Linked DNA regions of Homo sapiens. The protein of the gene in region 1 interacts with the protein of each later gene in a pairwise test. Each region holds a gene or a part of one and is shown in the gene's direction. Other genes may lie near its edges. The genes, in order: RBFOX2, NAF1, MAPK1IP1L and CAMK2B.

Region 1 (7,025 bases):
TACTTAAAAGTAAAAACATTTTATTTGTATTATAATCCTAGAAAATTAATTTCCATTTATAAATAGCACTAGAAAAACTATTAGTGACATTGTCAGTGGTAATAAACTGGTGAGAATATGCTCTACCAAAATAATGAAGTGATTCTTTTATGATGGTGTGAATAAAATTAATATTGATCTGTTTGTGTGCATGATCCATTCTGACCATATATGTGGTATGGGAATTGAGAAGCTTTTAGGATTTGCAGCCTGTTGATTAGAAGCAATACAATAGCAGTTTATGTATATAAGTGGGACTCAAGGTGACCAAACTGAGAAAATTAGAATGAAGTTGAGGAATAAATGAGAAGATATAAACAAAAATACACCCTTCTCTCTCAAAGATTACATAGACTTTAGTTATCCTAGAAATATGAAGACAATTATATTTTGGGTCATTTCTGTGTTCTCTTACAGTACTGTGCATAGGTTTTAAATAATATTCAGAATAATTCAGTAGGAACAGAAAATATGCTAAAGAATCAGTAACAAAACAGTTTCACCTGCTCTCTCAATTAATTTTCACACCCACCTCTGAAGTAAACAACCCATCTGGTAAGTGGTATAATTGGAATTTAAACTCAAGTCTGACTTTTAGGTTCATGCTTTCTTCTGTTTTACTACATTCCATGTAAACTGGGGAGAAGGCACATGGTTGGACCTAGAAAAAACACTGAAAGTCACCTGTCGGTAGGTGATGATTGAACCTCTGAGATTGCTGTGGGTAAGGCAATAGACTGTTGAATGGGTTCCTGTTTGACGACTGTAATACTATAGTTGTCTGTCCATAGCCACGGGTTCTGCATCTGTGGATTCAAGTAGCTGCGGATTGAAAAATTAGGGTGGGAAATTGGATGACTGTGTCTGTACTAAACATGTACAGACATTGTTTCTTTTTAGGAGACAGGGTCTCCCATTGCCCAGGTTGGTCTCAAACTCCTGAGCTCAAGAGATCCTCCCTCCTTGGCCTCCCAAAGCATTAGGATTACAGCTGTGAGCCACTGGCCTGACCAGACTCTTTTTTCTTGACACTTTTTTCTTTTCTTTTCTTTTTTTTTTTTTTTTTTTTTTTTTTGAGACAGGGTTCCACTCTGTCGCCCAGGCTGGAATGCAGTGCCATAATCATAGCTCGCCACAGCCTCTATCTCCCAAGCTCAAGTGATCCTCTTGTCTCAGCCTCCTGAGCAACTGGGACTACAGGCACATGCTACCATGCCCAGCTAATTTTTAAAAATTTTTTGTGGAGACAGGATCCCACTATGTTGCCTAGGTTGGTCTCAAACTCCTGGGCTCAAGTGATCCTCCCTCCTCAGCCTCCCAAAGATCTGGAATTACAGGCATGAGCCACCATGCAGGGCCTTGTCATTATTTTCTAAACACTACAGCATAACAACTATTTACATAACATTTACATTGTACTAGGTATTATAAGTAATATAGAGATGATTTAAAGTACACAAGAGGATGTGTGTAAGTAGGTTATATGCAAATACTATGCCATTTTATATAAAGGGCTTGAGTATCCAAGGATTTTGGCATCTGTGGTGGGCGGGGGCTGGGAGGTTCCTGGAACCAATTACCTGCAGATATGAAGGGACAACTGTATGTTTGAATTCAGAATGAAAACATTTAGCATATTTCACATTGTACACCAAAAGGCTGTATATAATATGTATCGCCTCTGTTACTATCTGTGGTTTAAAAGAGAAAGACATCATTCTCAACTCAGAAATTAATAGTTACATTTGATTTTCACTCACAGCTGGTCAACAACTCTTAAAGCCTGTGTTTGTAAGACAGAAGGAAATTAAGTGCATAAAGCACAAGCATGTAAATGTTGATTCTTTGCTTTCCTAATGCTTCCCCACTTCTACTTTCCCATCCCTGCACTCCAGTTTGATATCAACCCAAGATACCAACACTTGTTTCACTCTGTGTTATCCCTTGTTATGCTCTCTAGCCCAACAAAGCAGTTTGCTGTAATGTGCACACACCTGACTTTCTATCTCAGTCTTCCTCTATTTCATAAATGTTTAACACTTCATATTTATTATGTACGATGTGGGATTCTACATTGTACAGGACTGTCTCCACCCATCATAATGAGCCTTTTAATCTAATAGGGGAGTTAAAATACATATTTACGTTTGCTAAGTATGAGGCTTTAGATTTCAATGTCTTATAGGGGATGCAAGCTAAATGTTATAAGAATATAGGAAAGGAAGGAATTACTTTTAACTGGAAACAGAAGAAAGTTTATAAATTGCTAGGTTAGGGAAAAGAGCTATTCTGTCTAGCCTTGTGGACTAAAGAGAAAGCTAGTAATTTCTTTTCTCAGATGAGATATACTTAAGCAGCTTAGCCTCTGGTAATAGAAACAAAACATTTTTATATAAGTATAGAGGTAAATTCATACCTAGAAATACTCATGTGAACTGTTATCTCATAGTTTGCTGAAGGCTGTTGTACTTCTCTTCTGAGCATAGAACTTTGGAATATGGCCTGGAAATTTAATACAAATCTGAAACCATTTGACATTTTTAATAATGTATACTTGGGGAAATATTCAGACATTGCATGCTATATGAGAGAAAATGTTAAATCACTCCTATCCCAATTTCATTCCCTTAATATATAAACAATTGTTGTTACATTTTTAACAAAAATTTTAAAAGAAATTTCTGTAAGTAACAAAATAATCCACTAAGAATTTCTTCTTGACCTCTTAAGGGAGGTACATAACCCCTCTAGGAAAACAGAGCCTCTGCCTGGCTTGCATTTCTGTAAAACGCCTAGTGCCTAGGCTACAAGTGGATTGCAGGAAATGTTTTTACCTTTCTCCCCATCTCCCACTGCTAATTGATGTGTTTATTCAGTTATCTGAGTCAGCCCTGTTGAGAATAACGCTGTGAGAGAATTCATACTGTGTACTTGTGTGCCAGAGTCTCATTCCCAGCAGGCTGGGGTGGAGAATGGAGGCTGGAGTAAAACGAGGAGGCTGAAAGGAGCAGTGTCAGAGCAGGAGAAAGTCGCCTTGGCCTTGTTAATCCTAACTTGAAAACTCTATCTTTTAGCTTTTACCAATTATTTAGTAGAACTTTCTTATGGATTCCTGTGAGATTATATTTATGCCTGATGTGGGCATAAGACCTTTGGTGCTCTTATTGTGTTTCATTCACCAGTCCACCTGAATTCCAATTCAATTCTTTTTCATGTCTGTCTTCAGGCCAGTAGATTCAGCGAGGGCTTCTGAAGCAGTATGTTTCATATGGCTAGAGAGAGACAGAGAGATAGAGCATTGAATAATTTGAAGGGGAAGGGAGATAACTATTTTATATCTCTCGTCAGATGCCCAGAATAGCTATAAAGACATCATAAAAACTATCCTAACCTAGAAATAACGTAAAGAAGTTATATGGTGATGGGTGACGAAGATAGACTTTTTCCAAAAAAATTTAAAGTTTTCATAACATATTTTCTAAGAACTAAAGAGAGGGGTTTTTTTTTTTTTCTATCTTTTGAGATGGAGTCTCACTCACTCTGTTGCCCGGGCTAGAGTTTAATGGCAGCGATGTCAGTTCACTGCAATGTCCTCCTCCTGAGTTCAAGCGATTCTCCTGCCTCAGCTTCCAAGATATCTGAGATTAAAGGCATTTGGCACCATGCTTGGCTAATTTTTGTATTTTTAATAGGGATGGAGTTTCACCATGTTGGCCAGGCTGGTATTGAACTCCTGACCTCAAGTGATCTGCCCGCCTCAGCCTCACAAGGTGCTGGGATTACAGAAGTGAGCCACCACACCCAGCCTTTTTTTTTTTTTTTTTTCCCTTAAGAGACGTGGTCTTTCTGTTGCCCAGGCTAGGGTGATGCAATCATGGCTCACTGCAGCCTCCAGCTCCTGGGCTCAAGCAGTCCTCCTTTCTCAGCCTCACAAGTAGCTGGGACTACACATACCACCATGCCCAGCTAATTTTTTAAAGTTTTTCTAGAGACAGGGTCTCTTTGTGTTGGCCAGGCTGATCTTGAACTCCTAGCCGCAGGCAGTCCTCCCATCTCAGCCTCCCAAAGTGCTGGGATTACAAGGGCATGAACCATTATGTCCAATAGCAGGAAAATTTTTATGTAAAGCAATTTATTTTTATTTTTATTATTAATTTCTGTTACAGAATCTTCATTCCTGCCTTTACCAGTTTGCAAGGGCTGCCATAAGAAAGTATTACATAACAATATAGCAATGTATTTTCTTACCATTCTGGAGGCTAGAAGTGCAAGATCAGGGTGTCAGCAGGGTTGGTTTCTTCTGATGTCTTTTTTGTTGGCTTGTAGATGGTCATGCTCTGTGTCTTCACATGGGCCTCCCTCTGTATGTGTCTGTATCCACATTCCCTTTTCTTATAAGGACACCACTCCAATTGGATTAAGGCCCACCCTCATGACATCACTTTAATTACCTTTTTAAAGACCTTATCTTTAAAAACAGTGACATTTTGAGGTACTGAGGGTTAGAACTTCAACATACGGGTTGGAGACTGAGCACAACTCAGTCTATGACTCTGCCCCTTCCCACTGATAACTGTAATCAGTTCATCACTTTTTATCTAGACTGTGGCAGCCCCCCACCCCCAATTCTCTGCCTTTTTTCTTTCACCACTATTGTGTAAAGCAGTTTTTATTACCAAGTAGAAATGATTCTTGGACATTGGAGACAGCTGAATTTTGAAGTTGTTTAACTTTTAAATGGAAGAGAGTTATGAATTTTTGTTTCAAGGTAGGTCACTACCATTCTCTTAAGAGTAACACAGTAATTCAGTGTTTCAGAATATTGGCTTCCCCTTATTGATGATATATTTTTTGTCATTCTCTTTAGTATTAAAAACAATATATTTGTATAGGTTTTATTACAAAAGTAATATATGTTTATTATTGGGGCACAAGGAAACTTTTGGGGGTTTTGGATATATGTGTTGACTATCTTGATTGTGGTGATGATTTCATGAGAATATAAGTGCATATATCAAAACTTACCAAATTGTATACTGTAAATAAATAAGTGCTGTTTATCATATGACAGTTATATCATAATAAAACTGCTTAATTTTTTTGCTGATTTGATGACTAAAGACTTGGACTTACTTTGATGTTAATGTGAATTTTCGTGACAGTTAGTGAGGTTGAGCATTTTTATTAGTTGTTTGTATTTCATTTTCAATGAATTGTTCAGATACACAGTTTGCCTGTTTTTCTCTTGGGATGTGTGTGTGTTTGTGTGTACATGTGTGTCTGTCTTGTCAACTTGGTTAACCCACTCTGGGACTAGTGATAATAACCCAGCATCTCTCTTACCTTTTGCTAATATTTTCTCCTAGTTGATTTTTCTTTTTTGTTTTTCGTATTTTTTAGGGACAGAGTCTCTCTCTGTGGTATAGGCTGTAGTGGCTTGTGGTCCAAAGTGGGCTCTCCACCTACTTTTAATTTAAAGGAAAGATTTTTGCCCCTTTGGCATCTAGTCCACTTAAATATGGTTGTGGGCCTGTCTAGTAACTACACATTAACAAAAGTGAGTGTGTGTGTGTGTGTGTGTGTGTGTGTGTGTGTGTCTGTCCACATACATATATCTATGTGTGTATGTGTAATAATATTTTCTCCAATCCTGGAGCAATAAGCATTCCATTTTACCTATGCAGTGAGAGAATATTCAGAGAATTCCATATACTCACTTTAAAAATAGTTACGTAACAAGGATTCAAAGTCACTTTTTCTTTCTCTTGTTGTTTGTTTTAGGGTAACCAGGAGCCGACAACAACTCCTGACGCAATGGTTCAGCCTTTTACTACCATCCCATTTCCACCACCTCCGCAGAATGGAATTCCCACAGAGTATGGGGTGCCACACACTCAAGACTATGCCGGCCAGACCGGTGAGCATAACCTGACACTCTACGGAAGTACGCAAGCCCACGGGGAGCAGAGCAGCAACTCACCCAGCACACAAAATGGATCTCTTACGGTACGTGGACCATGAGGTGAAAAATGGAAGGATGCATGGCAATCATATAGAAATTGTCGCCTTAATTATACAATTAGAAGACTCTCGGAATTAATTTAGCATTTACACCTGTTCTCATTTACACCTTCTCTCAACAGCATTGTATACATTGTCCTCCCTCCTCCTAGAAATACTTAGTCTCTTGGCTTTTCGAGCTCTCCCAATTTTCCTGCCAAGCACTGGGTGTTCTGCTCCTGCCTCCTTCTCTGTTCAACTTTTAAATGGTGCAGTACTCCATATGTAGGTCCTGGAACCCCTTTTCTTTTTATTTTATATCCTTTCTCTGCATAATTATACTACCAAACTCAAGCAAAACCTAGGAATATTCTTTCTTTCTTTCTTTCATCTGTACATCTAATTGATTAGCAAGTCTTGACAACCATAACTCTAAAACTACTTCGTCTTCTTCTCTACATCTTATTACTCTTCCACCAAATTGCTTGTGTTTGAATCTCAATATGGCCCCTACTAAACTGTGTGACCTTGGACCAGTTATTTAATCTCTCTGCCCTTGGCTCACTCTAAAATGAAGATAATAGTACCTACCTGAAGAGGCTGTTAGGAAATTTAAAAGAATTTATCATCATCACTGCTCTAGTCCAAACCTCATCACTTATTTCCGGTATTACTGTTGCCTAACTTATCTATCCTCCACATAGGACTAAGGTGGTTTTTTTTTTTTTTTAATGCAAATGCCGATTTCCTACTTAACTCTTAATAGTTCCCTAATGCAATTAGAATATAATCTGAACTCCGTACTTGGTTTACTAGTCTCTAGCCCCAGCTTACCTCTTTGACTTCACCTCTTACTACTAACTTGCTAAAGTAAAGGAAATGTCATAAATTAATAATAGGTATATATCTCATACATACCAACATATGGGAAATTGTATTGTCTCTTGCTTTGTTGTCCAGGCTGGAGTGCAGTGGCATGAACATAG
Region 2 (7,025 bases), on another chromosome or scaffold:
GCACGTCAGAAAATTTTGCTCAATAGCAATTGAAATTTCAATAGCAATTGAAATCAATTTTTTTGGTCTGCACGTCAGAAAATTTTGCTCAATAGCAATTGACTTTTTAATTGACTGCATTTAGAGAAGTAGAAGATGAAATTCAGAGGGTTGAACTTGTTAGGATTCCTATTGAAGTTTTTGGAGTGTTTTTATTATTACAGTTGGAGAAAACTTGTTAATTGTAGAATGGTATTTATTGGCACTCGATAGGTTTGGTTTGCAAAGTTAACTCTTGCAAGGTTATTTCCTCTTATGCTGTAAACATCCTTAGGAGGATGATGTTAGTCTGATTGAAACCTATGACCCAAGAGGAAAGCCTTCTCAGAATTTCAGAATGTAGGCCATATTATCACATTGTTTTTTTTCTACCCCTGCATGTAGTTTTAATTATTAATGCTTTAAAAATATTTAATGGTCACTAATCATAATTCTTATATAACACTTAAATTGATGAGATAGTTTAATGCAAGATTTGAAAAAATAAATTAAAGCCTACAGGCACTCAGGAGCCTTTTTCATGAATGGATTCTGCCAGTCTGAATTATTTCTCTTTTTCTCTACTCATAACAAGAAATTCTCGTCTCGCTTATGCTTTATAACTTGAAGACCTTTGGATTTGTATGCAGCTTCATCAGTGGCTCATATTTTCATGCTACAGATATGTTAATATTTCTTAGTGGTCTTTGTACACAAAGGCTCCCAGCATAACTATTTTCTGAAAGTAGGAGACTTGTTTGGTCTTTCTTGCTTGTCTCTTGATCATTTTTCTACATAATTTCCTTATTAGAATATAATAACGAACAAAGAAAAGACCACAGTACTTCTGTAAATGCATACATATCATTGTCTTACTAGATTTGCAATTCTTACCTTGGGAATTTCTTCCAATTTAATGCAAAGTCTTAGCATATTTGTTTAGGTATTTTTCTGAACAGAATGTCCCTGTTTTCATCAGAAGATCAAAAAGGATTTGTGGCCACAAGGAGTCCAAGAACAAGTTCTTTGAGGACTGAGTTCATATGTGATCCTTGTAATTCCCATAGTCCCCAGTGGAGTGCTTTATAGATAATGGGTTCTCAGGCCAAAGTAATACATGATTATAGAATGAGTGTGTGAATAGGCATTTTATATTTATTAATTCTTTAAGAAATTATTATAGCACACCTGCCATTTGCCAGGTGCTGTAAACAAGACCAGTCCAGTTTCTGCTCTCATAGTGTCTAATGGAGAGACACAGACAGTAAATAAAGTGGAGACAAATAAATTTAATTGCTAAAAATGCTATTGAATTGTGTAAGTGTATGTTTGCCTCGAAAGACAAAATTCCATTTGAATGTTATTAGATTTTCAAACTTGGAATGATGGGTTGGTCTGTTCCTCTCTGTGACCATTTCAATGGATCTTTGGGAATGATGGAAGAGGCAATTATAGTCTTTATTTGGGAAACTTATTAGAAGTCCTTCAGACCACTGTGCTGCTAGAGATAGGTAGAGGAATTGATGAGTTTCCCAGTCTGCCCTAAATCTCTGGCTTACAGGTCTGAAAGAAGATATAAGGACTTCTTCGGGGTTTCAAATCTTAAGTTTGGGGGAAAAGAATGACTTTGTCCTGAGTACTAAGGATAGTGTATAGTTACAGGTATGTAGTGTGTTTAGGAGTCTGCCTCTTTGTCCGTTTCTCAGGGCTGGCAGTTTTACCACTGATAGACTCTTGCATGAAAGTCTTGGAGTTGACTTTTGCTGGCTTATGGTCTGTTAACACAGCCTTGAACAGATCATTGAGGCTAGTGGAATGGGTATTCAGATTGCTTGGCTGTGAGTCACATAGTCACTCCTGTTTGTGTAGGCGAGTGTGTAGGAGAGAGTGAGGAGAGCATGTGTAGGAAAATGAACACTTGAAAGAGCACATGGGCTAGTGCGAGAGGGTGGGAGTGCGTAACAGCCAGTTGACAGAAAGGGAGTGTGAATGTGTATGTATTGTGAGGAGGGTGGGATGTTGGGTGTAATATCAGCCCTATATAAACCACATGGAATGGTTTATCTTTCACAGGAAAGGGAGCTTATATCCATTCCAAAAGGGGATGCTGGGCAGACAGTAACAACGGATTATACTCACTAGAGGGAAAGGGAAATACTTGGAAGTGATATCATGTACGACTTATGTTGGACTCATTGTTAGGAGGAGCAGAGACTCATATTACCTCAGGAGAAATGGAAGTTTATTCGAAAGCAGCTGGGAACTAAGGCAGCTGTGAAGGCTAGTCACACTGTTTCTTTTACATGCCTCTGGATAGTCTCACAGTTCTCTGGCATTTTATTCTTTCATTATTGGTTGGCTTCCTCTGTTTATCTATAGATTTGTTTTTTGGTTTTTTTTTTTGGTGAGGGGGGACAGAGTTTCGCTCTTGTCGCCCAGGCCGGAGCCCAGTGGCCGATCTCGACTCACTGTAACCTCCACCTCCTGGGCTCAAGCTATTCTTCTGCCTCAGCCTCCCAAGTAACTGGAATTACAAGCGCCCACCACCACGCCTTGCTAATTTTTTTATTTTTAGTAGAGACAGGGTTTTGCCATGTTGGCCAGGCTTGTCTCAAACTTCTTACCTCAGGTGATCCACCTGCCTCGGCCTCCCAAAGTGCTGGGATTACAGGCGTGAGCCACCGTGCCTGGACAGATTGATCTTTTTAATTCTAGCTTATACATGGATTTCAGTATCTCTGGCTCTAAAAATGGCATCTTTTGCTTTCAGTGTCCCATGAACTGGCTAATTAGTGTTGTATTTCCTTGCTTGCTTTTGGGACAATTCTGTTATTTAGCTTAGATTTTTTTTTTTTTTTTTTTTTTGGAAAATGACAGTCCATTCTTTCTGGGAAGCATCTCCTCTCCACAACTATTCCTAGCTTGTGTGGTATGTGCCATTTTGTTCAGGCCTCTTGATATGTCACTTAGACTTTTAGGCAGCAGAGGTTGTGTATCTTAGCTAGATGGAGCTTCAAGCTCTATGTGGTCTATTAACTATCTAATGAAATTCTGAAGAAAATTAATGAACTTTTCTGCCAAAAGATATACACAAATTAAAGTGTGCCAAACAGTTAAAACCAATTTTAGAATTTGTGCTGGACCTTCAGGGATCTGGACATAGACATGCCCAATTTAGCCCAGTTTAACCCAATTTTATGTCCAACCACTTTCTAAAGAGTTTTCTAGCAGTTTCCTATTGTCACTCAGGCATGCTTAGCTTAATTTTTACCTCCATTTAGTCTGTGCTTCAAGCAGGAATGTCGCCTCTCTGGATCTATCCCTTTAAATCTTTCCATTGTGGGTTGTTCGATCTCTGCGATCTAACTATGTACAATGCAGATCTTTAGGTAGATGAGAACTACAGTGAAATAACTTTATGATTGTTCTTAAACCTTAGAAAGATATAATTTTTAAAATTAGGTTATAACCAAATCTTGCCATCCCAAGATGTGGTTATAACCCAGTTTTTTGTTTTTGTTTTTGTTTTTGTTTTTTAATGTGAGGGTACGTTAAGGGGGAAGAGAATAAAAGAGGAATTAGCGAGCTATAGTGGCAATGAAAAAGGAGAGTCTTAAGTGGCTCTCTTCATAATGTCACAATTAATAAGTTTAACTAGATAAAATTATTCTTTTAAACATAAATTCTTTTTTAATGCTCAGAAGGTTTATATATAACCTACACAGTCACTGTAAGCAGCATACATATTACAGCTTTGGAACTACGTTGAGCCACATAGGATGTATTTAGTGTTTTGATGAATTGGAAAATTGAGATTCTTTTTAAACAATTTTATCAGCAGTTGATGCTCTGAACTCTTCATTCAAATGTATCAAGTGTAATTAAAAATGTAGGGTCATAAAAATATTTGGGATTATAATTTTTAAAGTCTTAATCAGAAATGAGTTTTATAAATTAGTGCCCATTGTTTTCTGAAAACCTGAAAGGCTTCACATAACATTTAAAAATTATTAGCACAATGTTTATGGAGATAAGAAATGGATAATACTTCAGTAGGGATAATAATGTGTCTTTAGGCATATAATGTAGCATGACCAAGAAAAAAATTAATGCTTATTGGCAATTTTGGGGGAAATTTAGCTGTCATACTTTGGTGACTGCTTATTTTATAAAATAAGTACGTTTGGTAGTTAGGTTGAGTACACTCTATTCTCCTGATTGTGGCAGTGTGGACACATTCTAAAATGTCCTAACGTGAATGTATGGAAATATCTGGACCACTCAAGTGGTTGGAAGTTGCAGTAGAATATTTCATGCCTGTTTGATCTCCCATCATATATGAAATTGTATTGCATCTTGGTCTACACTTAGTAATTATCAATTGAATATATTGTTTTCTAGGCATAAGTTGGTTTATAAATTTTGTCCTGAATGCAGGCCTCTTTTAACTTAGGTTTTTATTACTATATGTATATTTGGAACTATTAAATTCTATTTTAGAATACACTTTGATAGCACTTATTAACATTCTTCCCAAAGTGCTTGTTATTTAAGCAATGGTTTGTATACTTAAGATCATTTTTCATTAATATTCACTAGTGTTCTTCAAAAATAATTAATACTCAGGGTTTTTTAAATTAAAGTTTTATATCTTACAGAATATTTCAATAAAGCTTACATGAGGCATGAATGATTTCATAAACATGAAATAAATACTGTTTTATTCAGTAGAGTATCCATTTATGTCCTGTGTATATACATATATAATTATTATTACACAGAAACATTCAATTGTTTAGATTCCCCCATTCCTCAGTAGTTTCTAATAAGTGAATTCTGCTGATTGCTTTAGAAGATAAAGACAAATATCTGTTAAAGAGCAATGGAACTAGAGAATGAGCATATACACTTTAGCTGAAAGCAAAGTAGCACCAGAGAGTTAATGGTTGAATGTCAGATGAATGGTGTACTGCACATAAGAAGTGATAGGATTGAGTGGAAGGGGAGGTAATAAGGATTTCTGAAAAATTTAGGCTAATACTCTGTGGCATTTTACAATTATTTGGCAGTCTTTTTATCTTAGTGATATAAAATCAGTGTCTTAAAGTTGATGAAATATGCACTCAATTAACATGAAAGATAGGCTTAAAGTTATATTCATTGTTGGAGGTTTCTTATTGAGATGGACTATAGTTTTATATTTAAGCAAATTAAATTTTGAAAGTATTATGAACTTTGTTTCTCTTAACAGTAATTTTAGAGAAAAACAGGATAATAATGTATTCATTTAAAAAAGAAAAATATCAAGACACTTCAAAGAAATGTTGACCCTCATTTTTTAATTGACTTGTCTGAGTCTTAAGTTTAGTGTCATACACAATAGGGTAATTAATGAGGGGACTAATGCTTACTGGTGATAAATAGCTGAGTTTCATGGAAACTTGTAAAATTACTTCCCCTGAAGAAGTTAATGAATTAGAATACATGTTAAGTATGGTCATAGTTGACACAAAGTGTACAGACCTAATCCATTCTTTTTCCAATATGTTTTACCAGCTATAGAGAAAAAAAAAATTCAGTCATGGCTCTCAGTACTCCAGGGATTGGATCCTACTTTCCAACCATATCTGAAAAGTGAAGGCTCACCTAATAGCATCAGGTAATTGGCTGCCACGTGCATGTCCTGTGTTGGGTAATATGAGAAAAGTGGTTAGATAATTTCATCCCACCTTCCTCACTTTTCTCAATTCTCCCCAAACTGACACCAAAAAGGTTTAGTTTTCATTTGGAATGTTTGATTCCTTCTCCCACCAACCTCTGTTGTCCTTTTTCCATATTTGTGAGTGAAAATCCTACTGAAAGTTCTTTATATAATTTTACTTTAGAAAGTCATCAATTTACTGATACTCTTTTTTGCTCAATAAGCCTTCACAAATGCTTGAAAAGTCAACAGTGTTGTAAATTATAAATGTTACCTTTTCAGAGGGCCACTTTTGACATATTAGCTTCTTCCATTTTTGCATTGAAAGTTTTAGGCACCCATTTTTTGACTGGTATGTCTATAACCTCATTTTTAATAGGATGGATTTTTAATGTTATGTGGTACTCTTTTGAATATTTTGCTTAACTGAATAACCTTGTAGACCATACAGATGTTAGAAAATTAAAATATAATAATCTTACAAAACAGACAATAATTGCTCTTTCATGGATATTCCAGAAGTGTGGTTAGGATCTTGCATTTCTTTAATGCCATCGTTACGAGTATCTGTTATCACAGAAGCACAGTAATTTTTTTATTGGGATCTAGTATATAATTTCTGTATTAATGTGTTGTCTTTTTGATTACATGCAGTTGGACATTTAAATTGTCGTTAGCCATTTGTGTAACTGTTTAGAACTTGTGCTCAGTTTCCTTACTATTCGTAGGTAAGAAAAATGAAACCAGAAAGAAAGAGACTTGTCTGAAGTCATATTAGTGGGGAGGAGCAGATCTGAACTGGTAATAGATACATTCCAAACTGCTGTGTTTTTAGTATTTGTGGAGACCTGCATAGCAACGTTGGAATCTGGTCGTTTGGACTTTCTCATTATTTGGTTTCTGAATAATCATGTAGCATATTTTCTCAAAGTGAAGGATGAATGTATCATCTAATGTAAGCTTTTTAAAATTGTATTTGCTTGGATTATATTGCCTCTCAATAAAGCTTTTGACTTGGAACTGTGTAGTGTGTGGGAAATAAATGGTGGAGCTTCTTTAGTATGTTGAATTTTAGTAGTTCATTTGCGAAATGCTGTGGTGTTTGGGGATGTTTATTTCCATGCAAGCTTTTCATTTGCTAATGATGTGAATGAAATAGTTTTCTTCCTTTCCTTTCCTACTCTTTGTTATGTGTAGAAGTATTGAATAAATGAGTCCAGAAAAACTTTTTGCTGTTCTTTGATTTTTTGTTAGTAAACATTTACAAAAATTTCATTTGTATGATAAAATAGTTATTTCTAATGGC
Region 3 (7,684 bases), on another chromosome or scaffold:
TGATTGCACTATATAAATGAGTAAATTTTGAGAGGAACAATGTGGGAATGTATAAATTTGTCTAAAATTTTATAACTGTTGAACAAAGGGAAGATTTGAACAGTGTAAATTCCAGAGTTGAGAAAGCATTTAGCATGGTGGAAATGTGGAGAGCTTATTGGTGAGAGAGGATGGAGCTAAGAGAAATAAGATCAAATATTAAAATTAGGAATTTAGGCATTACCTCAGGGAAAAGCCTTGACAGTGAAAAGAAACTACTTAATCGCTAATAGCTAGTCTGGACCAGACACTTAACTGCGCTTTGGGAATCATCCTGGGCTAATCAGGAAATAAACTTGACTTTTCTATTTTTCTCTGAAGCTTTACAGGACATACTCCCACTCCCATTTTTTTCTAAGCCTACAGCATCTTGATTCATAGTATAATTCCTGAAGTATGCTGAATGGACTTTTTAAGGTTCCTTTAGCATTTTTGTATAGAGTTATATGTGATCTTTCTATAACCATGCCATTCACTTAAATAATTCATGAAGGGAATGGTTTAATTTAAAGGAAGACCTAATAGGAAGAAGATTAAAGGAAGCTTTTAGTCAGCCTGTGGCTAGATTTATTGATTTGGTGATCAAACCTGTGCTATTTCCTGAATTTCAGCTAATGGCCAACTGTGGTCAAAGAATGGCTTTCAGTTAAAGTTTTGACTTCTTATTATAAATAATATAAAGAATGTCTCAGTAATTAGAAATCCCTTAATAAGTAGAACAAATGTGGCAAGTAGGACTCCTATCGGTATACAAATTCCATTTCTTTTTATAAGAAAAACACATAAACCATTATCATTTATTCATGAGCCAAAGCCATTAAGAAGATAAATCCAGTTATCAGCTTCCTGTCTCTGAAGTTTGGATCATTTTATAGATCCACGCAATAGAGAGCTTCCTTCCTATGAAACAAAAACCTTGAGATCTCTTTTTTTTTGAGACAGAGTCTCGCTGTTGTCAGCCCAGGCTGGAGTGCAATGGCGCAATCTCGGTTCACTGCAACCTCTGCCTTCCAGGTTCCAGCAATTCTCCTACCTCAGCTCCCAAGTAGCTGAGATGACAGGCGTGTGCCACCACGCCCAGCTAATTTTTGTATTTTTAGTAGCGATGGTGTTTCACTACATTGGCCAGGCTGGTCTCGAACTCCTGACCTCAGGTGACCACCCGCCTCAGCCTCCCAAAGTGCTGGGATTACAGGCATGAGCCACTGTGCCCGGCCAAGATCTAACTCACGCTTACTTTTCATTAAAATATTTCTTGTCGCTTTTAGCTATTGTCAGAATCCAATAAACAGCTTACGCATTCATTTTGGTAAAGCAAATTTCACAGGAAAATAGACAAAATTATAAGAGATTCCTGGAGACAACACAAGGAAAACAATGTTTAAAAGCAAAATAGCCTGTGTAATGTTAGGTAATGTAATGCCCAAGTGAATAAAAGATTTTTCGTCAAGCAAACTACTGTTTCTACTTTGGGGGAAAAAAGTCAGTTTTACATTTGTAATTTAAGGAAAGAACAGAAAGCACAAAGGTTTTTCTTTTCTTTATTAATGGCCTACTAGAAATGAGCAGTGCAAGAGTCTACCTGTACTATTCTAATACAGTAAGATATTGGACACAAAATGGAGGTAACTTTTTAAAATAGATTGGCTTGGAAGTTGAAATGTAGATTAATGGATATAACCCAATAGAAAGGGATTTTCAAATAAAACCAAAGTCTATTTTTTTATTTACTTTCTAATTTTGAACAGATGACTCAGTCCTAAATCTTTGCCTTTATTTCCTATAAAATGTAGGTGATACTTGTAACTCGACTTCCTGGAGTTAATTCTTCAGCAAGAGGTGACCCTGGGAGCGTACTTTAAAATAATTGCTGTACAGCCATTGAGTACTAACATGATGATAGGTTTTCAAAATATCTTTGTAGTGGATGCTGCATAATTACATTCACTTCTCTTAGACTGTAAAAGACTTTCTTGACTTGTTTTAACAGTAGAGATAGCAGTACAATTTGAATTTATGGTTTAGGCTCTGCAATTAGAGGAACAATTGCAGTTTCCTCCTACCCTTCATATGGTCTGTGTAAAACTGATGTTTGCTTAACTTATTTTAAAAGTTGATTACGTTTTCAGAAAATAAAGATAATCACTTTTGCCATGGTTATAATCAAATCTAAGCTTTCAGACTTGAGAGCCATGGTGTAAAACTCAAGGAGGTTTATTTAAATTATGCTGACTTTGCTAGAATTGGATAAATTCTGTATAAGCCAAGTATGAGTTCACATGTACTCGAATATACAGTTTTCACAAAGCTATTACTCTCATCAGTCAGGCTTGTATGATCTATTCCTTACCACAAAAGAAGTAGACAATTGCCACTTTTATTTCTAATCCTTAAGTTGAATGTTTCTTCTTGGATGTAAGTTCAAATAAATTGATCTGGATAAATTTTCATTTCTACTTAATTAAAACTTCCTATGTAAAATCCAAAGGCTTTGTGTTTTATTTTAAAAACATAGTCTTTACTTCACACATTCAACTTAGAATCTGAAAAAGATAGAGAAACCCATATTCTTACATATTTTCTAATTTATAATACACTCCTTTTAGTTTTTTTGTGTTTGGGACTTCCAGAAGCAGGTGCCAAAATGTGATTAGAGGTGCAAGAGATTTATTTGGAGTGAAACACCTAGAAAGATAGAGAAGGGAGCAGAAGGTGGGGAATTCTTCATACCACACAGAAAGTCTGACACCTAGAAGGAAGGATTGGGTAGGGGAGCTTCGGACTTCAGTGCATCTTGAGACTGCTAGATGAGGACTTGGTTCCCAAGCAAAGGTTGCCTGTAGAGAAGCCCACAGGGACAGGAATGGCCTAGATCTAGACCCCTCCAACGTGCTCAGCTACTGGCTGATTGCAGGCAAGGAAAAGTTGGAGGCTATCCATTACTGGTACACAGCGCCAGGACTAGGGTATGGTGAGGCACTTAGGGACAAATATTTGACTATACGACTAAGGAAGACAATGTTTTGGTACAATATTGTAATATCTGAATTGATGCAAAAAAGCCTATGATGAGCAAGATACCAAATTTCAAATCAAACCTGACCAGATTACTGATTTCTTGTTGCTTCAGGTTTCAGCATGGCTCAAGGCACTGCTGATTCACTGTCACCAGTGAGAACAGGCTAGGTCCACACCAGTCGTGTAATTTTCCATAGGCCTGTGTGCCCTTACCCAAAAATAAGACTCTCGGCTTAGGTATTTGAAGTTCCTCTGTTGCCCCTTTTTCAGTGTGAGAATTGTGTGTGCTGTGGAAAACATCCAGGGATGTCTTCCTTTAAACAAGTTCATGGTTAAATGGCCACCCACTCACTCACTAATGCCTTACACAAAGCAAGATGCAAGTGTACCACATACTTTTAGGATATTTTTATATCTTAAAAAATGTATATTGGCCGGGCACAGTGGCTCACGCCTGTAATCCCAGCACTTTGCCGAGGAGGGCGGATCACAAGATCAAGAGATCGAGACCATCCTGGCCAACGTGGTGAAACCTCGTCTCTAAATACAAAAATTAGCTGGGCAAGGTAGCGCGCGCCTGTAGTTCCGGCTACTTGGGAGGCTGAGGCAGGAGAATCGCTTGAACCCGGGAGGCGGAGGTTGCAGTGAGCCGAGATCGCACCGCGCCACTGCACTCCAGCCTGGCGACAGAGCAAGACTCCGTCTCAAAAAAAAAAAAAAAGTATATTGCATATATGTATATATTTTGCACACCATATAATTATCACGACATCTTTATTGCTAGTTAGTAGGTTCCTTGACTGGGGTCATGTCATCTGTGCCTGACACAGGAGGTAATGTTTATTCAGAAATGAAGATGGCGGCTGGGCACGGTGGCTCACACCTGTAATACCAGCTCTTTGGGAGGCCGAAGCGGGCAGATCGCTTGAGGCTAGCAGGGTGAGACCCCATCTCTATCAAAAACACAAAAATAAGCCGGATGTGGTGGCACATGCCTGCAGTCTCAGCTACTCGGAGGCTAAGATGGGAGGATTGCTTGAGACCAGCAGGCAGAGGTTGCAGTGAGCCGAGATCGCGCCACTGCACTCCAGCGTGTGTGACAGAGGCCCTGTCTCAAAAACAACAAAAAAGAACATGGGAGAAGAGGCATTGATGAGGAAAAATCTACAAAGAAAGCAAATATCAATTTGTCAAGCTATTTGCAAACGTCTTCCCTTTCCTGTATTAATATTTTCCCTCTCCCCACTTTTGGCCCGAGGATCTGAGTCCTCGGGTCAGGCCGAAATCAGACCGCGTCCATACCCAGCCTCCTTCGAGGCCTAGCTGTAAAAACCGCTGAGCAAAAGGAATCCAGAATCAGCCCTCAAGCAACTCAAGACAAGTTAGCAATTTCCGCCGGGAAGCCGTGAACATCGGCAGCCACTGGCGTTTCCTCCGAGTCCTCGGAACTCCGGAAACTCTGGGAGCTTTTAGCCCGCCCACCAGGGGAAAGCGGCCCGGAGCCGGCGCCAGGTGGAGCCCATCCCCCTAGGCCTGGCGGGCCGCAGTACCGCCAGGGGCCTGCGGGAGGCGCACGCGGCGCGGCCTGAGGGGAGGGGGAGAACGGGCGGAGGCGGTGCGCTCGGCGCTTCCTGTTCCGGCGCCAGGAGGAGCCGCGCGCTGCTGGTGCTGTTGCCGCCGCTGCTCTAGCTGCCGTCAGTCAGGCTGCGCCCGCGTCTTCAGGGCCCAGTCCCTCGGACCCATCGCCGCTTCTAGACCCTACTGCGGTCTCGGATATTGCCGGGTGAGGCTGCTTCGGTACTAGTGGGAGTCGTGAAGGGGAATCGGGGAGCTGGGGTTGCGGAGCCCGCGGGCGCGGCCAAGCGGGAAGCGGGCGCGGTGACCGAGGTGCATCGAGTCACGTCCAGTGCTCGGGCCGTGGTCGCCTGCCTGGCACCAGGACTAAGCGTTTCTATCGGTCGCCTTCCTCCACGCTGCGGGCTGCCTGGGGATCGCCCCCCAGGGAGAAGGTGTCGGAGGCCGCTGACGTCGCGCCCGACGGGTTTCTGGGCGCCTGACGTCAGGTCTGGCTGCGGGGCGGGGCGGGCGCGGGCCGGCCCCTCCCCCACCCCTTCCCGGCGGGCGCGACCCGCTAGGAGGCCGGTTCGCTCCGGTTGATCCCGGACTCCCTTTGTTCGTGCGTCCCTAAACGGCTGCCGGCCTCGCGCCCCTTGGCCCCGATTTCCCCTCTACCCCCACCCTATTACACTCATTCATTAATTTTTAATAAAAAGGGAAAGGCCTGAAAAGATTCTTACAAGAGTCTCGGGCGCTTGTTAATCCGCAGTGTGACAACGTTCTGGTTATGACTTACTAGAGGAATTGCTCACGGATACATTAGATGAATACCCAGGGCAAACCACGAGAAGGGCAGAATTCAGTGATCTCCTTTTTTAGGACTGAGGAGCACATACCTGCGATAGCGTATGCATAGCTGGACCGTTTTCCTCTTTACCTTGAAAAGCAAGAGTACAGCTTTTAATAGGTAAAGATTCCAGTGTTAAAGCATGAAGCCAGGCTCACTCGACCGCAAGAATTTTTTTTAGTTTTACTACTAGAGAAATACACACCTGGGGGTTGTAAAGGTCTGTTTCGAAAAGGAACCCTCATTACAGGCAAAGGTAGCCTTCAGAAACATTTCATAAGTTCTTTGTTCACTGGTGTTCTTTGGGGGAAGAATAGAAATTTTTCATGCTGGCATCTCTGAGCCCACAATGCAAAGCGAGTTTGCTTCAGAAACTTGGAGTGAATTGCAAATATTGGAATGTTCTTTTCCTCACTCCAGGCGGAATGGGTAAAATCCATCCCCAGTCTCTTAACTGAAACTTTTGAAGCTAGTGTGTTTTGAATTCAAAAATACTTGGATTTTATCTTCATCTTTTTAGAAAGTCATGTTAGACGAGAGATAACACCCCCAGCAGAGTGGGGCACCCCATAATCCAACATTAATATTTGCAGCAATAGATGTGAACATTCATTCTAAGTGGGGGCGAATAGAAACTATAAATAGCTTCAGGTCACATTTTGCCACCATGTAAGTTTTGTGCCAAACTAGGGCAGATAAAGATTTATGGACCTAAAAGTAGGCATCATAAAAGCTAATATTTGTTGAGGTTTTGCTATATTCCAGGCAGCGACTAAGAGATTTGTTTATTAAAAGTTTTACAGCAAATCTATGATGTGGGTACGATTCCGATCTTCCTTTGCCTCAAGTTTGGAGAGTTGGACTTGTCAACTCTGGCCGAACCAACCAGTGAAGAGCTGCAGTTATAGCTAGATAATCATACTTTAACGTTTACTTTTTTACCTATAAGCTAGATGTCCACATACAAAGAAAAGAGAATTTGGTATTTGTTTTCCACCCAAGCACTATTTTTTTAGGCACTTGATTGGACAGAGTCCCATTTAGTTCCTCGCAACATTACTGGCCTGGTTTTTATTTGTTTTGTTTTTTAAACTGCGTGCTTTTTACAAATAGTATGGCCTGTTCTTTATAGTTCGGGTTCATTCAGATGAGCCGACTTTTAGTGAAATAATTCAAACCCTCGTCTAAGGTCACTCTGCTAAGACTTTAATACAACCCTTCCCTTTCTCGCTATATTCTAACCCATCTGAACTGCTTATACCTCCCCAGAGATTCTCCCAGTTTTTACACTAACTGCTCTTCTTTCCCTAGGGCCCATTTCACCGCCCTCTACTCCCGGCTCTTTCCTTATGGTCCTTATGGACTGCAAAAGACAGCACATCTCAGGAATCTCCATGTAATACTATAATTTCTCTAAAGGCCAACACATTGTTTGGCATATATGTTCCAATAAGTATATAACTAAATGCCAAGAAATATTGCAGGTTGCATATCCTTTATCCCAAATGCTTGGGACCAGAAGTGTTTCAGATTTTGGATTTTTTTTACATTACACCAGTTGAGCATCCAAAATCCAGAATGCTCTAATGAGCATTTCCTTTGAGCGGCATGGTGGCACTCAAAAAGATTCAGATTTTTGAGCATTTCAAAACCCCCGTTTTTGAGTTGCCCAAATGTAAAAAATGGAACATAAGCAGATAAATGAGCCAATACTAAAAACTAGCATGTATTCTAATTTATAATTTATATTTTCTTTTTTTTTTTTTTTTTTGGAGACGGAGTCGCTTACTGTAAGCTCCGCCTCCCAGGTTCCAGCGATTCTCCTGCCTCAGCCTATCGAAGCGAAGTAGCTGGGATTACAGGTGCCTTCCACCACGCCCAGCTAATTTTCTGTATTTTTAGTTGAGATAGGGTTTTACCATTGGCCAGGCTGGTCTTGAATTCCTGGCCTCAAGTAATCCACCCACCTCGGCCTCCCAAAGTGCTGCGATTACAGGCTTGAGCCGCCGCACCCGGCCATTAATTTATATTTTCAGTACGATACATATCATCCCCCCATACTAAACAAATCAACCCAAAAATTTTGATTTCGCTTAATTTCGCCTAACAAATATCTAACATGTATATAGCACTTTATAGATTAAGTGTGTTACTATTTTCTGTGCAGTGGGCAGGAATTATAACTTCTACAGATGGAAAATGGTCTCTTATTGAGAAGTTTTT
Region 4 (7,025 bases), on another chromosome or scaffold:
TAGGCCTGCCTGGACCTGTTGCCTCACCCCAAGAGAGCCACAGGCAATGCAAAGGCTCCTGTTCATGTCAGGGCACCTGGAAGGCCTGACTTGCAGAGGCTCTTGGCTCGTGCAGACCCCTCCAAGCCCAGGCCCTGCCCACCACCTCCCCTTTGTCTCTGGAACTGCCAGGACAGCTTGTCCTCAGCCAGCAGGTTTCCCGACCCGGGCACCTCTTCATGTTGGGCCCCCCTCCTTTCCCTCCATCAGGGATCATGCCCTTCTTCAGGGGCCTGGATATCAAGGACACAAAAGCTCCCATGTGCTATGTGGGGAGGCAGAGTGGGGGCTGGGTTGAGCTGGGGTCTGGGCAGCGCCATTCCGCAGGGCAGGGGCAGCCTAGGCTTCCCATCTGTGGAATGGGTGGGTGGGTCTCACAACGGACCTGCTTCCCGTACTTCAGCACGGTTACCACTCTTGATTGGAACTCTGACCATGCATCTCCTCTTCTGTTTACTTCACGCTTTCTCTTCCCATCAACTCCCATTTTAATTACAATTTGTTTAAAAGCACTGCATATTACTTCATTAAACAGAAGATTAGTTTCACTTACCATTAGTGTAAGGTGACTATAGAACCAAAGCAGACTGGAAACCAAATGACATAATGTCATTCTCTTCTCCATTCCAGCTGCCTGCTGCTGTGCGCCTGAGAACCCCTGTGGAGTGGGAGGGGCAGCTGTCTCTGTACATTAGAAAGGGAGGTTAACTAAGTGACAGGAGGTGTTTGGGACATGTGGACACCAGACTTCTCTCTTGATGCAAGGAGGGCAGAGCCAGGCAGCCTAGTGGGGGCTGGCTTGGGGGCTGCTGGAAGGACTGGCTACAGGTGGAAGAGAGGTCAGACCTGAAGCTTGGGGCCACCTCCAGGAAAGGACAGGTGAAAGTGGAGGCATGAGGCAGGGGAGAGGCAGGTGCCAGGCAGAGGGTGGAGAGGAGGCAGGAACATAGCAGCTGGGGCGGGGGCGGGCCTCAAGTGTCATATGCTACTTTCCTGGGGCCCAGGGGCAAGGACAGGAACAGCCACAGCATGTGTTGGGACAGAGCCCTGTGCCTTCCTAGAGCTGGGCAGGTGGAATGGGGCAGGAATGGGACTCGTGGTGGCTGCAGCAGGAACTGGAGGGGAAGGGGCTTCTGGATCCTGCAGCCTACCTTCCTAGAGGCCAGCTTTCCGGGGTCCACCAGGTGGGTGGGAACTGGGCTTGTGTAGCAAGACTGCCCTGAGGACCATCCATGACATGGTCTAGATGAAAGTTAGGAAAGAAAGGGAGACAAGCTGGCAGCAGAAGTACAGCTGGGTCAGGAGCAAGGGCCTTTCCAGATAGGGACAACCCAAGAGTGCACATGTGCCCACGCCACACAACACAGGCACACACGACACGTGCACGCTCATAGGCACTGCACACACACATGCACAGGTGCTCATGCATATGTATGAGCTTCATCTACACACATTCACATGCCGTCCTGCTTATGTGCATGTTTCCATACATGCACATGAATGCACAATCACGTGTACACACATGCATGTGATCACATACATGAACATGTGTGCACCCCACTCCTCAGGTGCCATCGGGCTCCTCCTGCTGTCACTGTGCAGCAGGGGACATGAGGCCCCAGAGCAGACAGGTGCAGCACAGGCGTTCCCAGGCAGTGCCCCACACACATGCATGAGCACACCCGGGCATGTGGCGCCTCCTTTGTGGACTCAGTCACCTGCCAGGTGGGCTCCCTGGTGGTGTGAGCTCCCAGAGGTCTGGCGAGAGAGATAAAGGCAACCCCACCACCAGGCGTGCTGAGAATTCCCTCTTCTGGCTGGGCACAGTGGCTCATACCTGTAATCCCAGCACTTTGGGAGGCCGAGGTGGGCAGATCACTTGAGGTTAGGAGTTTGAGACCAGCCTGGCCAATATGGTGAAACCTCATCTCCACTAAAAATATACACACACAAAAATTAGCTGGGTGTGGTGGTGTGCACCTGTAGTTCCAGCTACTCGGGAGGCTGAGGCAGGAGAATCGCTTGAACCTGGGAGTCAGAGACTGCAGTGAGCCGAGATCATGTCACTGCACTCCAGCCCGGGTGACAGAGTGAGACTCCATCTAAAAAAAAAAAAGAATTCCCTCCTCTGGGAATTTAGACCACAGACAGGTTGCATGTATGTGGCCGTTGGAGGCAGCACTCACAGCAAAGAGTGGAAACGTCACCACAGGGCCTGCCTTCTGGTGAAAATGGTGTCCTGCAGGGCGGGCAGCTGTTTGAGGGCAGGTGTCCCAGGTGCGGCCTGCAGCAGCCTGAGGGTCACAGAGCGCAGTGCTGGGAGTGCAGAGACTTCCCCCACAGGGAGAGTTCCCAGGAACCTGCTTCCGGTGCACTTCTGGGGGTTTGAGTTTTTTCCACGGACGAATTACTTTGAGAAACCACTGTTACTCGTGTGTATAGGTGAGCGTGCGTGTGCATGTGTGTTCTGTGTGTGAGTGTGCATGTATGTGCGTGCCTGCGTATATATCCTCGCAGATACGGCTAGGGACCTCACTCAGGACAGTAGTTCTGCCTGAGGAGAGTGAATGCGGCAAGATTGAGGAGAACACAGGCATCTTCAAACTACATGTGCGGTGCTTTATTTCTTTAAAAATGCGTCTAAAGCAAATAGGAAAATGTTAAGATTTGAATCCGTAGAGTGTGGGTTCTATTATTCTCTCCACATCTTCCATACGTTTAAAATCTTTTGCAATGAAAATAAGCTGTAGTTAAAGCAGCAATGCAGGCTGCCAGTGAGCGCCCCGGAGGCCAGTGAGGACCAGCATGGCTGGGTGGCCTGTTGGAATCCAAGGGGGGCGGGCAGGAGCTGCAGGCAGGCGCCCGGGAGTAGCCCGGGCATGGGGGTGCGGGGCAACAGGGATGTCTGCAGGGGTAGCATGTGGGCCCCGGACTGCAAGCAGGTGGAGCCAGCCGGATGCGGCTCCTATGAGAAAAGCGGGGAACAAGAGACCACGCTCGTTCTTCCTGCTGCGGGGACAGCCCTGGTCATCGCTCCGGGGAACCCTGCAGCCTGCGCCGCACGTGGCCGCCCCCTGCTGCTTCCTCCTCCCCGGCCTCCGGGTGGCCTTGCTGACGGCTCCTTCTCTGAGGCAGGTCTCTGCCTTCTCGCCTGGTGCCTGCACTCAGTAGCCCCCTCACCAGAGCTGCTGGGTGAAGGAAGCACTAAGAACCCAAGGCTCGGGAGGAGAGTGGGGCCGGGAAGCTGCAGGGAAGCGCAGGGCCAGGCCTGGTGGGCCCAGGGGCTGGCTCACGGGAGGGCAGGAGGGAGACTGTGGCGGACAGCACGTGGGGCCAGGAGGTGACCTCCAAGTGGATTGTGGGTGGGTTTTTTGTCCTCTTTCTGCATTTTCCAGGCATTTTGTAATGTGGATAGAATATTTCTGTTCTTCAAAAATACTTTAGTTAAGAAAAATAAGATGGAAGCTGTTGCACTTGAAAATGAGGAAGCCACTGGTGATGCAGGGGGGGCGGCGGAGAGGACCTCTTCTGCAAATAGCGGCAGGAACACGGCATGGATGCAGCTCGCGCTCCCCCAGGCCCTCCCCTGGGCTGTGTGGAGGGGTCCGGGGGGAATGGGCCAGCGCCCAGTGGTCACCTGGCCATGTCTCCCCACAGCCCGGAAGCAGGAGATCATTAAGACCACGGAGCAGCTCATCGAGGCCGTCAACAACGGTGACTTTGAGGCCTACGCGTGAGTCCCTGGGGCTGGGGGGGGGCTGTGCAGGACAAGGATGTGGGACCCTTGGGGGGGCCTGCTCAGAGTCAGGGGTCCACGGGGCCCCTCCTCACTTGGATTTGGCCCCCAGGAAAATCTGTGACCCAGGGCTGACCTCGTTTGAGCCTGAAGCACTGGGCAACCTGGTTGAAGGGATGGACTTCCACAGATTCTACTTCGAGAACCGTGAGTGAGGAAGCCCGGGTGGGCATGAGGGGGCGGTGCCCCCAGGAGAGCCTCTCGGCCCCTCCCAGGGACAGCATGGTGGCTGCCTATGGAAGCCCTGTCCCCTCTGTGCCCAGGGTTGGCCAGCCACCTCTCCCCCGCCAGAGGCCATACCCAGCCCCCAGAATCCCACTCTTGGAGGGGCCCATGCTGCTCCCAGGAGAGCCGAGCCTCCCCAATAAGGGGAGTTGAGAGAGGGAAAGGATTAGGCTGGTGGGGTGGAAGACGGGCACCAGGGCAGTCATGGTAACCCGAGACCCCCGCCCCGCCTGCTGTCCACAGTGCTGGCCAAGAACAGCAAGCCGATCCACACGACCATCCTGAACCCACACGTGCACGTCATTGGAGAGGATGCCGCCTGCATCGCTTACATCCGGCTCACGCAGTACATTGACGGGCAGGGCCGGCCCCGCACCAGCCAGTCTGAGGAGACCCGCGTGTGGCACCGCCGCGACGGCAAGTGGCAGAACGTGCACTTCCACTGCTCGGGCGCGCCTGTGGCCCCGCTGCAGTGAAGGTGAGTGTTCTGTGCTAAGTGACAGCTGGGGCAGAGGGGTGGCGGTGGTGTGAGTGGCTGCAGCCTGGGGAGGCGATGGGGAGCGGTGGGGCCTGTGCAGAGCCATGCCTGGGAAGTCCCTGAGCTTTCCTGGTGAGGCCACAGGAATGATGTCAAATTAGGGACCACGGCAGGCTGGGTGTGGCAGGCCTCCCCAGAGGACTGGGGAGCTGGTGAGGGCCTGAGCAGTCCACACTGGCCAGAGCTGGGTGGGTTGCAGGTGGATGGGCCCCGGGCAGCACAGTCCTGGGCACCATGCCCTGTTTGTGAGGACTGTTAGAGCCCCAGATGGGCGTTCCCCAGGTGGTGGGTGCAGCGGGCCCAGAGCCCAGTTTTACAGGGATAGTAGTAATTGGGTTGGGCACCTTGAACCTCTCTCCCGAGTGGGCCCTTTTCTGGACTTTAACCCTCTCTGCAGTGCCGCATGGCAGACAGCAGAGCCTGGGGGTGGATGGGAGAGGGGGCTGCTGAGGAGCTGACCCACCCGCCCCATTTCAGAGCTGCGCCCTGGTTTCGCCGGACAGAGTTGGTGTTTGGAGCCCGACTGCCCTCGGGCACACGGCCTGCCTGTCGCATGTTTGTGTCTGCCTCGTTCCCTCCCCTGGTGCCTGTGTCTGCAGAAAAACAAGACCAGATGTGATTTGTTAAAAAAAAACAAAAAAAAAAAAAAAAAAAACAAGATGACGACGACAACCACAAAAAAAATTGACATCAGATGAAATGAAAAAAAAAAAAAACAAAAAAAACTAAAGGAAGGAAAAAGCTGTAAAAATCACTGGCATTCGTGGGGCCACTCCCCACCCAAGCTCCACGTGTGTCCGTCTGTGCTCCTGGCCTCTGGGGGACCAGCTGGGACATGAACTTGTCTGCCAGGCCCCCGTCGCGTGCTGAACGGTGTTAGTTTGTAGGTAACGCACACACCCCACACCTAAGGTGTCTGCATCCTCCTGCCAACGCATGGGCTCCACGTGGTGTGCTCGCTGGCTGTCGTGACTGTCAGCTGTCTCTTGGGAGGGGCTGTGGGGGCCCGCTGGGCTGCCTCCTTTCCCGCTAGTTGTGCCTGAGAGTTGCTGTTGTTCCTGCTTTCCCTTCCCTTCCTTTCATCCCCTGAAGGGCTAGGTGTGGGTTTTCCGTGCCCGGTATCCCCACACACCCAGCACGGACAACCCTTCGGCAGAGCCCAGGCCGGCCCCTCACCCCCTGGAGTATTGAAACTGGAGTCCCGTCCCCAAGGCCTTCAGAGATGCCCCTACACACCCAGGGCTCCAGCTCTGGTCCTTCTGGGGGAGTAAAGTGCAAAGAGGGGCACAGCTTAGTTTTGGGCCTCTCGCCGAGCAAGAGACAGCACTGCTGGCTACAGCTCCAACACAGCCAGCTGTGGCAAGAGGACTCTGCCTGGGCTGGCCCCCCTCCTGTGTGAGGTGTCTGTCCCTTCTCTGCTGGCCAGCAGCAGATGCACTGGCAGCTCCCAACCCTGTTTCCGCCCCTCGGCCCTCCCCCAGCCTGTTCGGCTTCTCTGCAGCCCGCAAGGGGGAGCAGACTTTTGACAAAGGACTGCGGGCCTCGCTCAAGTCCCTGAGCCCCCAGCTGAAGCTGGGAGGGGAGGCCAGGCTTTGTGTCTGGGCATATTCGTCTGCTGATGGGGTTTGGGGAAGCCTGGGGCTTGGGGTTTGGTCGGGTGGTGCAGCTAGTGGCAGAGCGGGATCAGAGGTGGTGGCTGCCCAGCTTCTGGGCTGAGACAAGGGTCTGTGCAGGGGTTTACTGAAGTGGGAGTGCCTTTGGAATCTGGGCCGGGAGCAGAAGGGAGCAAAAGCTACAGTGGGAGCCAGCCTAGGGCACATGGGAGGCGTGAGGGCAGTGCTGCCCGTGCAGTGTCAGGTGTGCCAGTGCCTTGGCGGGCTGCAGTGCGTGTGAGGGCACCTTCTAGGTGGGCCAGGGATGCAGCTATGGAGATAAGGCGGGCTGGGGACAGAAACAGGTGGGCACAGGGCCCAGGACACCAGCGGATGGAGGGCAGGGTCTAGCCCTGTGCTCCTGAGCGTCGGCTGCCTGGGTTCGAGGCGGTGGGTCCCCGGCCCCTTGTGATGGTGTGTACCATGGGGGAGCTCGGGGACAGGGCAAGCCCGAGCATGGTGGGGCTGCAGGGTGGGTCTGAAGCCAGGTTGGGTGGGGGTGGTCACAAGCCCTGACTGCAGAGGGTCAGGGGCTCCTGCCCCAGTGCCTGCCCACTTTCAATTCACATTGTTTTCAACAAGGATTTTCTTTATCTTCCCCTACAAATCAAGCCAAGGGAGGGGCACAGAATGGGGAACAGGACACAGGATCCTAAACTCCAAGGGGACTGTCCACCGATGAACACTCAGAGTGGACACCATCTTCCGTCCACGCTGTGCCCAGGACAGCTGTCCCCATCCATGAACACAGGGTAAACATCTGCCGGGCTCCGCA

The links.
Region 2: the proteins of RBFOX2 (region 1) and NAF1 interact in binary tests that used the Homo sapiens proteins (3 or more experiments, as listed by UniProt).
Region 3: the proteins of RBFOX2 (region 1) and MAPK1IP1L interact in binary tests that used the Homo sapiens proteins (3 or more experiments, as listed by UniProt).
Region 4: the proteins of RBFOX2 (region 1) and CAMK2B interact in binary tests that used the Homo sapiens proteins (3 or more experiments, as listed by UniProt).

The regions. Positions count from the first base shown.
Region 1 is NC_000022.11:35,808,800-35,815,824, reverse strand, and holds part of RBFOX2 (RNA binding protein fox-1 homolog 2), read left to right. Parts: intron 1-5,820; coding exon 5,821-6,045; intron 6,046-7,025. UniProt on the Homo sapiens protein: RNA-binding protein that regulates alternative splicing events by binding to 5'-UGCAUGU-3' elements. Prevents binding of U2AF2 to the 3'-splice site.
Region 2 is NC_000004.12:163,156,877-163,163,901, reverse strand, and holds part of NAF1 (H/ACA ribonucleoprotein complex non-core subunit NAF1), read left to right. Parts: intron 1-5,574; exon of another isoform or gene 5,575-5,677; intron 5,678-7,025. UniProt on the Homo sapiens protein: RNA-binding protein required for the maturation of box H/ACA snoRNPs complex and ribosome biogenesis.
Region 3 is NC_000014.9:55,046,964-55,054,647, forward strand, and holds the start of MAPK1IP1L (MAPK-interacting and spindle-stabilizing protein-like), read left to right. Parts: upstream 1-4,683; 5' UTR 4,684-4,840; intron 4,841-7,684.
Region 4 is NC_000007.14:44,217,573-44,224,597, reverse strand, and holds part of CAMK2B (calcium/calmodulin-dependent protein kinase type II subunit beta), read left to right. Parts: intron 1-3,696; coding exon 3,697-3,772; coding exon of another isoform or gene 3,773-3,776; intron 3,777-3,887; coding exon 3,888-3,982; intron 3,983-4,303; coding exon 4,304-4,536; 3' UTR 4,537-4,538; intron 4,539-5,075; 3' UTR 5,076-7,025. UniProt on the Homo sapiens protein: Calcium/calmodulin-dependent protein kinase that functions autonomously after Ca(2+)/calmodulin-binding and autophosphorylation, and is involved in dendritic spine and synapse formation, neuronal plasticity and regulation of sarcoplasmic reticulum Ca(2+) transport in skeletal muscle.